Regions from separate parts of the Homo sapiens genome. Here region 2 is linked to region 1. A link means that fine-mapping ties the variant in region 1 to the expression of a gene that starts in the linked region. Tissue or cell type: whole blood. Region 1 holds a variant in brackets; the other region holds the start of a gene. All regions are shown on one strand. Distances are from middle to middle.

The links. PIP is the estimated chance that this variant, and not a neighbour inherited with it, causes the effect.
Region 2: it holds the start of ACTR5, and the variant in region 1 is fine-mapped to the expression of ACTR5 in whole blood (INTERVAL, PIP above 0.99).

The regions. Positions count from the first base shown.
Region 1 is chr20:38,772,757-38,775,256 of GRCh38, forward strand. No RefSeq gene overlaps it. Among named protein-coding and RNA genes, the nearest start is that of ACTR5, 26 kb to the left of the region's middle. The variant A/G (reference allele first, on the strand shown) is at 1,214.
Region 2 is chr20:38,747,264-38,749,935 of GRCh38, forward strand. ACTR5 (actin related protein 5) reads left to right here and starts at 1,197. Exons shown (of 9, transcript NM_024855.4): 1 at 1,197-1,590. The coding sequence starts at 1,216. RefSeq lists silencers at 673-942, 1,243-1,432 and an enhancer at 793-1,294.

The DNA.
Region 1 (2,500 bases):
TAAGACTGGAGGAGGTTTATCCTGTAGCCTGTTCAGTTTTGCCATAACCTCCCATTCCCTGTACCTTCCCAGCTGTGTCTTAAGTGGACAGATAACCCCTCACCTTCACAGAGATTGCTCGGTGAGAATTTTAACTCAAAGACAACCAATTATTGATCCCAGAAGGCCCCTGAGCTAATATTGTCACTGAATTTGTACCTTTAAATCTTATGGAGCCTCTAGCCCACCCCTCTGATGAGGCCACCTTAGAACCTGTTTGCTCATACAGTCTACCAAGGGTCATCACCTGGATCTCCAGCTCTCAAGGGCTTAGAAACTGCAGACCGGAAGGGAAGGGGCAGTGGTGATGGAGAGAGTGGAAGACCACAGCTGACCGTAAACAAAGGAAAAAGGAAAGGTTATCGCAAACCTAAATAGAAGATGCACAGGGGGAAGATACTCCATTGAAAAGAAATGAAATAAGAAAGTAATAGATAAGGAAAAGAGGCAAAGGAAATTAAACTGTAGTTGAAGAAGAAAATTTAACTATATTGAGTTTTGTGGTGGTGATGGTCAAAACAACATGACAAACTTTACCATCTTAACCATTTTTTTTTTTTTCCCGAGACAGAGCCTCACTGTGTCGCCCAGGCTGGAGTGCAGCGGTGCAATCTCAGCTCACTGCAACCTCCGCCTCCCGGGTTCAAGCAATTCTCCTGCCTCAGCCTCCCGAGTAGCTGGGACTACAGGTCTGTGCCACCAAGCCCAGCTAATTTTTTGTATTTTTAGTAGAGATGGGGTTTCCACTGTGTTAGCCAGGATGGTCTTGATCTCCTGACCTCATGATCCACCCGCCTCAGCCTCCCAAAGTGCTGGGATTGCAGGCATGAGCCACTGCGCCGGGCCCATCTTAACCGTTTTTAAGCGTCCAGAACAGGGGTGTTAACTCTGTGCACATTGTTGGTCAAAAGATCTCCAGAACTTTTTCATCTTGTAAAACCACACTCAATACCCATCAACTCCCTTCCCCCTGCCTCTGTCCATCCCCTGCTCTTTGCAACCACCATTCTACTTTGTAAGAGTTTTTCTTTAGATAACTCACATAAGAGAAGCCATACAGTATTTGTTGTTTTGTAACTGGCCTATTTCACTTAGCATAATGTCCTCAGGCTTCCTCCATGTTGTGGCATGTGTCAGAATTTCCTTCCCTTTTAAGGCTGAATAACATTCCATC[A/G]TATGGATATACCACATTTTCTTTCTTTACCTTCGATGGACATTTAGGCTGCTTCCATTTCTTGGCTATTGCAGGCAATGCTGCAATTAACATGGGAGTGCAGATATCTCTTCAGGATCCTCATTTCAATCCCTTTGGATATATACCCAGAAGTGGGACTGCTGGATCATATGGTAGTTCTATTTTTAATTTTTTGTGGAACACTCGTACTGTTTTCCATAGCAGCTGCACCATTTTCATTCCCACCATCAGTGCATGAGAGTTCCAGTTCCTCCACATCTTCACCAACTCATTATGCTGTTTTTTTTTTTTTGATAGTTTCCTCATTTACTATCTTTCATCTTTTTGATAATAACCATTCTAACTGGGGTAAGGTGATATTTCATTGTGGTTTTGATTTGCATTTCCGTGATGATTAGTGATGTGGAGCATCTCTCTGTTTGCTTATTGGCCATTTGCATGCCTTCTTTAGAGAAGTCTCTATTCATGTCATTAGCCCCTTTTTTAATTGGGTTATTTCATTTTTTGTTGAGTATAGGAGTTCTTTATATACTCTGGATATTAACCTCTTATTAGATACATGGTTTGCAAATATTTTCTCCCATTCTGTAGGTTACCTTTTCACTCTTGTTTCCTTTAATGGGCAGAAGTTAAGTTTGATATGGTCTCATTTGCCTGCTTTTGCTTTCATTGTCTGTTTTTGGTGTCATATCCAAGAAATCATTGCCAAATTCAGTGTCGTGATGCTTTTTCCCGGAGTTTTCTTCTAGGAGTTTTTCAGGTCTTATATTTAGGTTTTATCAACTACATTACGTTTTATGTTGAAGAAAAAACACTGGAATAGAATTAATGTTTAAACTGATAATAAAATTTTCTTCCCCCACAAAACAAACCACCCTGAATATAAATACTGTAAGGCCACTCTGTGTGCTTGGGAAAGTTGACTCAGAGGTGTCAGATCCTAGTGAAACGATTAGATTTTAAAGATAAAAGAAGTCCTCTCGGGCCAGGAGTGGTGGCTCATGCCTGTGATCCCAGCACTTTGGGAGGCTGAGGCAGGCAGATCACTTGAGGCCAGGAGTTTGAGACCAGCCTGGCCAACATGGCAAAGCCCCATCTCTACTAAAAATACAAAACTTAGCTGGGCTTGGTGGTGCACACTTGTAATCCCAGCTACTTGGGAGGCTGAGCCATGAGAATTGCTTGAACCCAAGAGGCCAGGGTTGCAGTGAGCCAAGATCGCACCACTGCACTCCAGCCTGGGCAACAGAGCAAGACTGTCTCAAA
Region 2 (2,672 bases), 25 kb before region 1:
ATCTTTTGTAACTAATTTGATTTTATCTCTCAAACTGAAGTGTTATAGACCTGGTAGAGTAGATTCAAGGCAGCTGCTCTATTCTTTTTCTTCTTTCAAAATGGTTATGGCCAGCATGGGCAACATAGTGAAATCCCTTCTCTACTAAAAATATAAAAATTAGCTGGGCGTGGTGGTGCACGCCTGTAATCTCAGCTACTTAGGAGGCTGAGGCGGGAGAATCACTTGAGTCCAGGAAGTCGAGGCTGCAGTGAGCCGAGATCGCCCCACTGCACAAAAAAAGGTTGTAGTAAAACAACTGCTCTAATTCTTACCCCCTTAGCTAGTGAAAAGATGGAAATGCGACAGGATAGAGCGCGACGAGTGCTTTTAGGGCTAAAACTGAGTGGGTCACACACATGGCCTCCTCTCCCACCCGCTCCTGGCCAGAATTTAGTCACATGAGCGCATCTAGATCGCAGCCAGACGGATGGCCACGTGGGAGTGGGAGGTGATGCCACTAAAAGAGAGGGAATGCTTGGGGAACAATCAGCAGTCTTTTCTCAGGGTTTGAGAAAACACTGTGTCTTAGTGAGAAGACACAGTCTGTGCGAGTTAGTAAAGTGAACAGAACTGAGTAGTCAGCTCCCTAGTCAAGAAATTGAACAGTCGGCAGAGTTTGAGATTTCTTAACGTAAAGGAAGCGTCAAAAGATAAAGGACCCTTCTAGCCAGGACGCAAGACTGAGGGCGAGACAGCCACGCGGAGGCGGGGCCGCCGGCGGTCGAAGGTGCGCGCCCGGCCGACGGTGCGCGCCCGGCCGACGGTGCGCGCCCGGCAATGGGGCGTGGCCAGGCAGAGAGGCGGGGCTCCACCGAGCGCGGCGCTGAAGCTGGCAGCCAGAAAGGGGCGGGGCCTGGCGGCGATAGGCTTTGGGGCGGGGCTTCCAAACCGGGCGTCCCGGCTAGAGTGAAGGGGCGTGGGCACTCATAGGCTATTGGGGGAGAGGTTAAGAAACGTAGAATTTCGCAGCCAGAATGGGTACGTCTCAGCGATCCTGAAAGCAGCCTTGACAGCCAGAGGCGAGTCAAGTGGAAAGGCTGGCCGGGCTTCGAGAAGGGAGGGGGCATCGAGGTACTTAAAGGCCTGAATCGCGCGGCGTGACGTCGGGGGCGCGGTTTCGCGGCGTCTGGGCGGACACTGCGCCGAGGGGCGGGGCTGGACGCGCGCTCCAAGATGGCGGCGAACGTGTTCCCGTTCCGCGACGCCCGTGCCGCACCGGACCCAGTGCTGGAGGCCGGCCCGGTGGCACACGGGCCACTGCCGGTACCGCTGGTGCTGGACAACGGGTCGTTCCAAGTCCGCGCTGGCTGGGCGTGTCCCGGGCAGGACCCAGGTCCCGAGCCGCGCCTGCAGTTCCGCGCGGTGTGCGCCCGCGGTCGTGGCGGGGCACGGGGCGCGTCGGGCCCGCAGGTGGGGAACGCTCTGGGCAGCCTGGAGCCACTGCGCTGGATGCTGCGCTCGCCCTTCGACCGCAACGTGCCGGTCAACCTGGAGCTTCAGGAGTTGCTGCTGGACTACAGCTTCCAGCACCTGGGTGTCTCCTCACAGGTGAAGGGCGGAGTAGGCTGGGCTGGGCTGGGTTTGAGGGGAGGGGTGCGGTCTCGTCTCCGCTCACTCTGCTCTCGGAGAGGTAACAGTCACTTCAGTAGCTCCGATTGTCTTTTAGTCGACCAGATGCTAGGCGCTGTGGGTGTAGCAGCGAATAAAATGCTGCTCCTTGTATCTTGGAGCATACCTTTGGGCATATATGCTTGTTTGTTAAGAAGCCCATTTATTAACAAATACGTATTGAGCACTTACTCTGTGTCAGGCACTTTTTAGGCATTTGGAGTACATGTGTGAACACAAAACTTCCTGTGCTTATGGAGCTGTTAATACTATGGAAAGATATTCTAGTATGAAAAGGCAGACAGTAAACATAGAAATAGTAGATTCTACGCCGTGATAGGAGAGGAGGGAGTTACATTTTTTCAGTAAGATGGTCAGGGTAGGACTCGTGAAGGTGATGTTTGAGCAAGGACTTGAAGGAGGTGATTCAGGTAGCAAGCCATGTGAATATCTGAAGGAAAAACGGTCCAGGCAGAGGGAGCAGCCAGTAAAAAGGCCCCGAGGCAGGAGTGTGCCCTAATCCTAACTGCAAGGCTGCCTGTGTGAGGGGGAGAGTAGTACCTGAAAGAGGATGTCAGAGAGGTAGTGGAGAGGCAGATCACACACCTTATAGGCTTTTACTGAGTGAAATGGGGAGCCATGGCAGGGTGTTGAGCTGAAGAAGGACCTGACTTGTGTTTTAAAAGGATCACTATTACTGCTGTATGGAGAATGAATTGTCTTGGATCATAGGGTGGAAACAGGGACGAGTTAGGAGGCTGTTGGAATAACCCAGGTAAGGGATGATGGTGGCTTAGATGAGGCAGATAGCAGGGAATGTCATTAGAAGCAGTTGGATTCTGGAAATACTTTGAAGATAGAGCCAACACGATTTGCTGACAGTTTGGATGGGACCTTGACTTAATAACTTAAATTGACTCTACTTTCGTATTTTCAAGTAAAGATGAGATGGGAGTTTTATAATCGCCTCTGATCAGGTTTTTGATTAAGAAGCCAAAAGCAAATTCAGTCCTGCAATAAGG